3 linked regions of the Homo sapiens genome follow. The protein of the gene in region 3 purifies or fractionates together with the protein of the main gene of each other region. This does not show direct contact. Each region holds a gene or a part of one and is shown on either strand. Other genes may lie near its edges. The genes, in order: RP2, CPNE8 and OGDHL.

Region 1 (3,649 bases), on a different chromosome or scaffold from region 3:
TAACTACCCAACTTCAATTTCAGATGATGAAGTACTCTCAAACTATTTTACTCTATTTTATCCTGTACATATCTGTGATGTAGGTAAGAGAAGTCGAGGAAAGAAAAACAATTTTTATTGTTTGTTTGTTTTTGAGACGGAGTCTTGCCCTCTCGCCCAGGCTGGAGTGCAGTGGTGGGATCTCAGCTCACTGCAACCTCCGCCTCGTGGGTTCAGGCAATTCCCTGCCACAGCCTCCCGAGTAGCTGGGATTACAAGCACCCACCACCACGCCTGGCTAATTTTTGTATTTTTAGTACAGACGGGGTTTCACCATCTTGGCCAGGCTGGTCTTGAACTCCTGACCTCGTGATCCACCCGCCTCGGCCTCCCAAAGTGCTGGGATTACAGGCGTGAGCCACTGCGCCCGGCTGGAATCTGATTTTTAGGTGAGAAAACCAAAGTCTAGTAACTTCTCTTGGCTCCCTATGGAATGTCTTTTTGCTTTACCCAGCCTTTTTGGACTTCCTAACCTCTCTCAAATTGTATACTTCCTATTGCGAAAAAAAAAAAATCATTATTTAATGCATTAAAACAATGTGAAACAAAATTCTGTAATCCTCCTGGGGTTTAACAAATATAGAGTTAGCAATCATAGTTTCAGTCTAAGCTGTCCTAAGACATTTGTGTTATGACATGAGAAAGACTCAAGTTTTATTTTTTTCATCTCAAGATTCACTAGCTTCTATACATATTTCCCTGCGAACTCATCTCATTTTTTAAAAAATGTAATCTCTCAATATAATATATAAGTCTTTTGTCTTTCAGCATGTTTTGATACCCTCTTCACATGTACTTGGTATTTTATTTTTTATTTTTGTTTGTTCTCTTCATTCCTTAATTCTGTACTTTCAGAATAAGATAGGATAACTATAGCCAAATAGTCCCTAGACTGGAAGGCCCTAGAGTCCACATGCTTTCAGTCACATTCCTGCTCCACCAGGCATTCAGCAACTTTCCTTTACCACTGAGGGAGCATAACAGCATCATGTTTAAGGGTTAAGGTGTGGCCTACACAGCCAGACTGCCTGGATTGGAATCATGGCTCTGCTTTTTCCAGCTGAATGACCTTTTGCAAGGTACTTACCCTCTTTATGGTCTATTTTTCATATCTGTAAAATGGGGAATAATAGCACCTATTTCATAGAGTTGTTTTGAGTATTGAGTTAATTCATTTAAATTCCTTACAATAGTGCCTGGCATATAGTAAACACTATGTAAGTGTTAGTTATTATTATCGCTGTGGGATTGTTTATATTGTATTCCAGAGGATATCTAAAGAATATCATTCTTCCTGGTCATATTCTTTTCAAGGGCACACAACACTGCCATTTCACATACCAGATACCAAAGGTTAAAAGGTTAAGAACATTTGGTGATTCATGAAGAAACACTGTTTTGATGGCTTTTTCTTTAAACATGCTAAATATTCTTTATGTCCACTCCTCATTACCTATGAAAAAGGAGTTTAACCTAAATAATTACATATTTTGAAAACTGTTTGTAGTTTTTTTTTAAATCACCATACTGCATAATGAAAGCATTTACCTCTCAGATGTTGGATTAACATGTGATCAGATAGCTCAAAAGCCAGAAGCACATTTTTCTGTATCTTACCAGATTCATGGAATGTTTTTATCACATAGGCATAAGCAAAAGAGAAAATATAAAAGTCTTAAAATTAAACTTTGGCTTCTGTTGGTTTAAAAACTATACCTCAGATATACTTTGTGGATTTCAGACATTTCTACATGGGTTTTCTACATTGTGGAATATATAGCTATTGAGAGGTATTCATTTTTAGTATTTTCCTAAAATCATTCCTTTTGATATGTTCCAACTTAAAAAAAAAAAATCCATTCAAAAAGAGACTTGATGAGTTTTCCGGCCGAGCGTGGTGGCTCTCGCCTATAATCCCAGCACTTTGGGAGGCCGAGGCGGGTGGACTGCTTGAGGTCAGGAGTTCGAGACCAGCCTAACCAACATGGCAAAACCCTGTCTCTACTAAAAATACAAAAATTAGCGGGCATGGTGGCAGGCATCTGTAATCCCAGCTACTCGGGAGGCTGAGGCAGGAGAATCGCTTAAACCCGGGAGGCAGAGGTTGCAGTGAGCTGAGATCGCGCCACTGCACTCCAGCCTGGGAGACAAAGTGAGACTCCGTCTCAAAAAAATAAAAAGAGACTTGATGAGTTTTCCATTCACTTCTCTATGTCTTTAAGTTTGGTTTTTAAATTCAAACAGATTCCTCCTGAAGGAACCTGATTAATGGATAATCAATACATCCTACTGCTGCCTTCCCACTGGAGCACCCACCAACTAAGGAACTGCTGCTTCTGGAGCCCCTAACCTCTGTATCTCCAATTATTTTTCAAGCAGAAGCTGCTACCCCAAAAAGCCTTCTCTATTCATGAGCTCACCAAGACCCACTGTTCATGAGCCTATGAGCTTTGCCAACCTAGCTTCCATCTCACTCTTCTGCATCAAGCTCCCTTCTATGGCAATAAAGGAAAATAAGGAACGTAATGTGGAGGTTGCTCTCACAGTCACAACAGGGTCCAAAAGTTGTATTCCTAAATGTACTTTTGGCTGGGTGCAGTGGCTCATGCCTGTAATCCCAGCACTTTGGGAGGCTTAGGCAGGTGGATCATGAGGTCAAAAGATCGAGACCATCCTGGCCAACGTGGTGAAACCCCGTCTCTACTAACAATACAAAAAAAATTAGCTGGGTGTGGTGGCGCCCACCTATAGTTCCAGCTACTTGGGAGGCTGAGGCAGGAGAATTGCTTGAACCCAGGAGGCAGAAGTTGCGGTGAGCCGAGATCGCACCACTGCACTCCGGCTGGGTGACAGAGCAAGACCCCGTCACAAAAAAAAAAAATTGCATTTTCTTACCCCCTAACCAATTAGAACTCTAAAGAAATTTCCCCACTAAATAATTATAAAATGTCATGCTTTACTAAGCAGTACTACTTTTGTGAGCTTCTCTGGAAATCATCTAGTATAATGGAAACTCTTTAAGGGCAGAGAATTTTGTCTATGTATCTTCATCTCCAGCATACACTATAGTTCATCATTTCTGAGTTGCTATCAATTATAAGATGCATTCCAGATAAGCAAAATCATGGAAAACAAATAGGCATCCTATCATCAGTGAAATATGATAACAGTAACTAGCACATAATAGGTGCTTAATGCTTACTGATTTGAATTATATTTTTTTAAAGTTTCTTTGGGAAAGTATTTTGAGGCCCAAGCAATCTACTTACAAACAAATGCTTAATGCTTACTGAATTGAATTATATTTTTTAAAAGTTTCTTTGAGAAAGTATTTTGAGGCCCAAGCAATCTACTTACAGATGAGTCTGTTGGGAGAGGGGGTGGTGGCAAAGGACTATAACTTGAGGGTTGCCTGTATTTCCAATAGCCAATTTGAAAAGAATGGAAGTACTCCAGAGTGGTACATTTTTAAATCTAGGTGTATGACTATTTCTCTTCTCTTTCTCCTTACCTCATCAATTAGTTTTCTGGCATTTGCAATAGTGTAATCACCAGCAAATAATACCACTAAGCATGATTCATCGCTGCTCTTCTGTCTCTGACCCCGGGA
Region 2 (4,087 bases), on a different chromosome or scaffold from region 3:
CGCCTGGTGGCGAGCTCCCGGGACCCGCAGGCGCTCGGGTGAGGCAGGAGGGAAGGCGCGGGGAACAAAGGTCCCTGCAGTGGAGGGGCGCCTCGTCTACCTCCGGATGCTTTTGCCACGACTCCGTCTTGGCACCAGTCTTGCTGCCCTGGAATGCAGTTTCCCAAACGCAGCGCTCACTCTGACTCCTCTCTGCTTTTATCCGTCAGGTCTCAGTTCTTGCGGGTGGGAGTCGGCTGAAGGAGCTGCGTTATATGGTTGTGACATCACCCTCCCCGGCCCCCATTTTCAGGTCAGAACTTTCATGCCTTTGGAAACGAGGGACCCAGAAGAGCCCTTACTGTAGGAGGAATGTCGCCGTTAGACCTCTAAGCTCCGAAGAACCAAGGGGAGACAGAATCCAGATTGCTTCCTTAAATCCCAAGTAGTATTGTTTTTTCCACCTTAGAGTCCGCCCCCCCGCCCCCACTTGTCCCATATATTGATCGGCCACTTTGCCACCGTGTTCCAAGGTTGGAGAGCGTCACAATGCCCCACCGTCCCCAACTCTCAAGTGGCCGACAGTGGGCAGTCCAGAAGCTGGGACCAGACTCATCTGCCCGAGGGCACAGTAGGAGGGACGGAGGGATCTCCCAAGAGCTCCGAGGGCGAGGTGAGAACCAATTGTGGGGAGGGGGACCTTATAACGGGGCAGTTAGGAACGGGCAGAGGTGCCCCCACCTCCAGCTTTCAACTCAGGCGAGGAAACTTCGAGACCTTCCCGTCCACACCTGATTGACAGAAGGAAGCTGTCGCGGCCCAGGAGGCGAGTGTGGGTGTGCAGAGGTGGAGACAAAACCTAAAAGCACGCAGAGCCGGCGAGGGCTTGCGGTCCTGGACGGTAGGGGTCTGCGTCTGGTGCCACCTTCTCCATCAGGCTGCTTGCTGGGTCCACCAAGCCTGACCCCTCCAGCCAGGAGGGGATCACGGAGTGTGTCCCCCGCCCGGGCTGCTGCCTGCCGGAAGGGGGCTGGGAAACCGGGATCCCCGCGCGCCACTTGCCTGGCAGCGTCAGTTTCACCCAGGACTGGCTAGCGGTTCCCTCGTGGCTCTGCGCGGAGGTCCGCCTCCTCCCTTCCCTCCCCCATCCCGCGCGCTGCCTCCGCCTCCTTCTTCTGCCTCCACCCTCAACCCCCATCCCCGCCTGACGGGAGCTAGCCCTCAGTCCGCCCGAGCTGTGGTTGTGGGCGCCGGACAAGTCCAAGGCGCCTCCTCCCAATATGGACAGCCGCTACAACAGCACTGCGGGCATCGGGGACTTGAACCAGCTGAGCGCTGCCATCCCGGCCACGCGGGTGGAGGTGTCCGTGTCCTGCAGGTGAGGACGCAGCCCTTCCCCTCTCTCCTGCCCTCTCATCTGTGGGGTTGGTAGCACTTGGAGAGCGCTCGGGGTACCACGAGGCTTTGCGCAGGCAAGAAGTTGCGCCATGAGTGGGAAATATCTCAGTAGTGGGGCTGGAGTTACCCCGGGTCAGGTGACACAGGGGAGCGGGAATTAGAAGCGGTGGGCTCCGGGACTGAGACTTTGTATTTTCTTTCTGGGAAACGCTGTAAAAGTTGGCTGGGCTGTGACTCAGCTGTGGGAACACCGGCCGCCGCCCACTTTACAAGCCGGTTTTCCGCCCCAAACCCGGGCTGGATGGTTGGGTGATGACCGGAATCGAAGGGGACAGCACTGCCAAAAGCTCTTGTGACCGCTGCACGCTTAGGCCCGGGACTTCCTCTGCTAGGCGTGTGCAAACCTGCTGTTGCTAGGGTTGGCTCCAACCCCGGCAGCTTCCTCCCCACCCACTTCCTGGAGCCTTCCAGCTTGCTTCTCCCCGACCCTTCCGGGCTTTTTGCCTTTTGCCTGATAGGTAGAGATTTCGGCCCTCCTTGCAGACGAATCTATGCCTTACCTAAGATCTGGGAAGTCACGACTTTTGTTTTGATTTGTTTTCGGGCCCACATCTGAGTGCTTGTAAAAACTGACTCTCGGCCGGGCGCAGTGGCTCAGTACAGTTTATACGCCTGTATTCCCAGCACTTTGGGAGGCCAAGGCGGGTGGATCACGAGGTCAGGAGTTCGAGACCAGCCTGGCCAATATGGTGAAACTCCGTCTCTACTAAAAATGCAAAAATTAGCCGGACGTGGTGGCACGCGCCTGTAGTCCCAGCTACTCGGGAGACTGAGACAGGAGAATCGCTTGAACCCGGGATGTGGATGTTGCAATGAGCTGAGATCTTGCCATTGCACTCCAGCCTGGGCGACAGCGCAAGACTCCATCTCAAAAAAAAAAAAAAAACAAAAAAAAACTGACTTTCAACCCTGTCCAGAGACTGTAAATTGCAAACTCGTTGTCCTGACCTTTCGGTTAGTTGCCCTGTAAATAAAGCAGCATCACCGCTATATCATAGATGATTTTGAGAAGGAGATGAGCGATGGTGCTAAATTGGTACTGGCCACTAATTTGCGAATTAATATTGACCCTGGAGCCCACTCCCTTGTTTGCATAATTGGGTCTGTCTCACTGGAAAACTGGCTCCTCATTTATCCATTTTTGCCCTAAGATTGTTTTTATGCCCTCACATCCTCCCTTTCCTTTCCTTAGCAAACTTGCCTTGAAGATATCTAACAAATTTGGGTGATCTTGATGTAAATAAGTTTAAAATTCCATCAATCTTGACTTTGCATTTTCACAAACTGAGCCTAAAGCCAAAGGAATTCTTTTCTGGGGGTGAAAATTCGAGCACCAGCAACCGTAGTAGAAGTATTATTTGAGGGTAGGGGACAGCCTTTATCTAGCCCTGAAACTATATCACCTGATTGTTTGCCGCCTCTTAAGACTGATCTGGGACTATGGAAATAATCATGCTGATAATGATAGCTATCATTAAGCTCTTGCCTCATTGCTGTCACTGCTTTAAGTGCTGCCTGAGATTTTTCTGTCAATGGAACAGGTGAAGCTGTTTGGAAAACTCTTTAGAGGATTCCTAGGCCTTTTTCTTTTCTCTGAAGCTTGCTTTCGATGTTAGAGGGAAGTTACTGGTATATACAGATAATGGATAGCCGGAAGTCCTACAATAACAGCATTACTAGAGTTCTTATCCTCTGCTCAACAGTCTGCAAAGTCTGAATGGCATGTGGCCTATACTTGGAATGAATATAAAAGAATATTGTCAATCAAGTCTGAATTTTTCCATGAGCTTTTTAAGGGAAATTATACCTAAACTGGTCATTCTGCCAGTAGGGCCCATGTTTAATGCAGCCCCTTTTTTGATGCATGTTTTCTGTGAGTGTGCTGGGCATACTGAAGTCAATTGGCTTAAGGCAATTTGTTTCAGTTTGCTGCCTCAGAACCTGCAAATCCCTTGTTCCAGCTTTTTTTCATAACATTGCTTTGACATTTTGTTTTTAATTTTTAAGATTTCTAACAGGAAAAAAAAATCCTGAAAGAGAACCTGAATACTTAGTGTCAAGCATCTCTGCCAGGGGCACTAGTGCTTAGTCTATTGTTTGAGTTGCTTCTGACTCAGCTTACTATTTACGATAAGTTTGAGGTAAAAAGCATCTTTTGGGCAAAGAGAAACATAATTAAATACCCAAGTTAGTGCCTTTGGAATAGGTTTGGGAATAGTTCCTGAAAAGGTGGGTTAAATTTATTTTTAATACATTAAAATTCAAAGATAAAAATATTTGAGTATTGTTGGATCTTGTAACCATAGGAGGTGGTTTAGTTTGGGCTTTGGCATCAGAGACCTAAGTACAAATTCTGGCTTTGTGACTTGTTCTTGCTACCTTGGAGTAAGTTCTTATTCAGTCTGTCTAAGCATTCTCATCTCCAAAAATAAGAATAGTTATGGTATTTACCTTATATAGAGTGTTATCAAGGTGATGTGTGAAAGCGCTTACACAATGCATGAAACAAAAACATGTTTTCAAAAATGTTAGCTATTATTATAATACTGGAAATAACATTTGTTGAATAAATGTGTTATATATGATTCAGGTATGGAATTCTGTAAAAGTCCTTCTCTTTTGAACTTCAATAAGTTGGTTAAAGAACACA
Region 3 (3,649 bases):
TCTTGGGGACAAGGACCATAGTGGCTACTTCTTTAAATCCTTAGTGCCCAGCACTGGGCTGGTAACATCTACAACCCCTCTCCAGGGTCCCCACCCAAAGTTTGTCTTGGGCGCCCCTGCAGCCTGCCTGCCCACCTCAAACTCCTGCAGGGTGACTGTGCCCTCGGCAATCAGCTTGTCTGCGTACTTCTTCAGCACAGGCACCTGTCTGTGGATCTGCTTGTACATGAGCGGCTGGGTGAACATGGGCTCGTCCATCTCATTGTGGCCACGCCGGCGGTAACAGACCTGCAGGAGCAGCCAGAGGGGCTCAGGCCCTTCCCTACGCTGTGTGGTCAATGTAGCTGCTGCAAAATTGGGGAATATCTGGGTAGGGCACACCCACTGGGAGCCCTTTGAGCTCCACTATCACCTATCACCGAATGAATGTCCCGTCCCAGGCCTTTGCACAGATTGCTCTTGGTGGCATAAATCTCTCATCCAAGAAGCACTCCCAGCCCTGAGTGCTGAAGATGCTGATGACATGGCTGGCTCAGCACAGCAGGGATGGGCCACCCACCCATGCCTTGGCCTCAGTCCCCAGACCCACCAGGTCCACGACAACATCTTTGTTGAAAGTGTTTCTCCATTCGGCTGCCACACTGCACACATATATCACAGCCTCTGGGTCATCGGCATTCACATGGAAGATAGGCGCATTGACCACCCGGGCCACGTCGGTCGGGTATGGTGAGGAGCGGGCCATTCGGGGGTCTGTGGTGAATCCAATCTGCAGAGGCAGGAGAAACCTGCTGCGCCTCTCAATTTACTTAGAGTGAGATAGAAGGTGCCAGCCTTGGAGACTGAGCAGGGGGATGCTCAAGGTCCACTGAGGTGCCCAGGAGGAATGTGGGACACAACAGGGTGATGGTGAGCAGCCCCACAATTAGACACGGCAACAGCTCCCACGGGGACGGCAGCAGCACCAGCCGGGTGGAGCCTGCTCTTTTTCGCCAGTCACTTTGACACACTGGTAGTGAGGAACATAGGCCTGGAAAATCCAGTCCTAACAACGGCTAACTGCAACCTGGGGCAAGGTGCTTACATACCCACAGCCTGTTTCCTCATCTATAAAAAGGGGTCACTTAAATTCCCACCTCACAGGATGTTCAAGGACGATGACGTGACTTAATGCAAACAAGGCAGTGAACACAGGGCTTTCTAGACTCCATATGAGCTGTTAGAAGCTCAGCTGCCTTAGAGAAAGGGCACCAAGGTCCCTGTGTCTAAGATTGCCCATGTGGGGCTGCACACGGCCAGCCTCCATGAGGCACTCGCTACACAGGTGCTCCTTTGGTCCTTCCAGCCCTACTTATCCCTCCCTATTGTGTCTTCCAATTTCACAGACCAGGACACCAAGGCTGGAAAGAGCAGGGTCCTGCCTGGTAAGCAGCACAGCAGTGGGCTCAGAGCCAGGAGCATCTCACTTTCCCCGCAAGCTACTGCCTGGATTTCCAGGGATGCTGACGCTGTGAGGCCCAGCGTGGAGCCTACATGCTCACCTGGTTGTTGACGACGACGTGCACGGTACCATTGGTCGTGTAGGAGGGCAGGTCGCTCAGGTGGAAGGTCTCATATACCACGCCCTGGCCAGCAAAGGCGGCGTCCCCATGAACCAGGATGGACATGACCTGCAGGGCAGGTGTGAGCCAGGAGGGGCTGCGTGCCCCAGCCCATGTAGCCCAGCCGGCACCTGTACTGTGGAGACCCAGGGTCCAGCCCAGCCCTCTGGGCCCACCCTGAAGGGCCCAGGTCCTCTGGGTTCCCCCAGGTGAGCTCACCTTCTTGCCCTGGGCATCTCCACGGTAGAACTGCTCTGCCTTTGTCTTCCCCTGCACCACAGGGTCCACTGCCTCCAGGTGGGAGGGGTTGGCAACCAGCGACAGAGTGATGTTCCGGTTGGTGACGCGGTTGATCCTCTCATGGTACATGCCCAGGTGGTACTTGACATCCCCGGAGCCCTGAAGGTGGAGATGGGAACATGATGGATCCTCCCCTCCCACATCAGACAGGCAGATACACAGGCAGGCACTGCAGCCCACAGTCAGGCTGGCACATTCCCCCGATCCCACTGCCTCAGAGGGCCAAGCTGTCTCTGACCCCTCTCTCCTCATCACACTGCCCCTCCTCACTGGCCTGAGGGAGGAAGGCAGGGACCCCAGGCCTTGGCTCAGAGCCTCTCTGTACACTGACCATGGAGCAGGAGAGCACAAGAGTGGGGAAGGCCATCCAGCGGTGGGGAAGGCAGGGAGAGAAGGGCAGTGCCTAGGCATCAGCGCAGAGACCCTCGGCCAGGCCACCAGCAAACACTGAAGCTGAATCCCCTGACTCCTCACACCAATGGTAGCAATGAGGAACACACAACATTTTATGACCCTGAAGCAAGGAAGACTTACAGCATTCTACACAATATCCTAACACCAGAAAACACAAAAGACACCTAAATTCTAGCAAATTTGCCATGGGGGAGCAAACCCACGCCCAGCGATAGGGGAAACAAATCAAGCTGAGAAAAATATTCATAAACAAATGCAGGCAAAGGGCAAATTCCCTCAATGTACAAAACGCTTTTACAAATCAGGAAGATAAAGCCCAAAAACTCCATAGGAAAATGAGCAAAAGCCACAAGCAGGAATTTACAGAAAAATATGAATGGCTCAAAAGCATGTGAAAAGATAAGCAACTGAATTCATAACAAAGAAATGCATTACAACAAAATCCTCTTTTGAACCTATTATATCGGCAAAGATGAAAGGATTCGAGAGCGTGTAGGAGGAAGTGGGGTGGGGGCTCTGGCACCATCACACACTGTGGATGGGCTCGCTGACATCTGCCAGCTCCTGGGAGGGTCGTTCAGTCCCACCCCCGTAGCTCCAGCCGCTGCACTGCTCGGACACCATCTAACAGATAAACTCGCTCACACATGTGCAAGGACCCTCATGAGAACAACCCAATGTCCAGCACAAGGGATGCTTTAGCTGTAAGAAGCCTGGGGTAGCCCATGTGTGCAGGCAGGAAACAATGACAACTTGTTAAGTGAAAACAGCAAGGTGCCACCCGGTGTCACGGCTATGCCCATGGCCTCTTAGAAATAAGGTTGCACTGGAAAAAGAGGTTTGTTTGTATCAGCATGAAATGTTTCTAGAAGTACACACCTAAACACAACAGAAGCACACAAACAAAATTGGCCACAAGAATGGAGTCTCACTGAGGAACATATTCTCATTGTATAAGCTTTGTTCTGTTTTGTTGTTTTCACAATGATCAAATTTCTTTTTCAGTTGAAAAAAAATAGTAATTTCATTTTAAACATCCTTTGGCCAAGTTTTCCACTATACACACAGGTCATCTTTGACTCATTGCAACCATTCTCGGGCATGCGCTTTTATCCCTGTTTTATGGAAGAGCAAAGTGAGGCTTAGAAGGCTGAAGGTGCTAGAACAAAAGGAACAGGATGTCAGAAAGACCTGGGATAGGAGCCAGTAGGTATGGGTCCACACACACACACACACACACACACACACACACACACACACACGGCAGCAGGCTGGAGACAGCAGGAGAGATAGTCCTGAGGGCAAAGGGACACAGAGGAGGGAGTGACAGGCTC

What was found.
Region 1: the proteins of OGDHL (region 3) and RP2 purify together in Homo sapiens (affinity purification with mass spectrometry; one large-scale study listed by BioGRID and IntAct). This does not show direct contact.
Region 2: the proteins of OGDHL (region 3) and CPNE8 purify together in Homo sapiens (affinity purification with mass spectrometry; one large-scale study listed by BioGRID and IntAct). This does not show direct contact.

Annotation. Positions count from the first base shown.
Region 1 is NC_000023.11:46,854,043-46,857,691, reverse strand, and holds part of RP2 (protein XRP2), read right to left. Parts: coding exon 3,551-3,649; intron 1-3,550. UniProt on the Homo sapiens protein: Acts as a GTPase-activating protein (GAP) involved in trafficking between the Golgi and the ciliary membrane.
Region 2 is NC_000012.12:38,902,707-38,906,793, reverse strand, and holds the start of CPNE8 (copine-8), read left to right. Parts: upstream 1-1,202; 5' UTR 1,203-1,259; coding exon 1,260-1,357; intron 1,358-4,087. UniProt on the Homo sapiens protein: Probable calcium-dependent phospholipid-binding protein that may play a role in calcium-mediated intracellular processes.
Region 3 is NC_000010.11:49,745,209-49,748,857, forward strand, and holds part of OGDHL (2-oxoglutarate dehydrogenase-like, mitochondrial), read right to left. Parts: intron 2,001-3,649; coding exon 1,821-2,000; intron 1,671-1,820; coding exon 1,542-1,670; intron 770-1,541; coding exon 590-769; intron 289-589; coding exon 136-288; intron 1-135.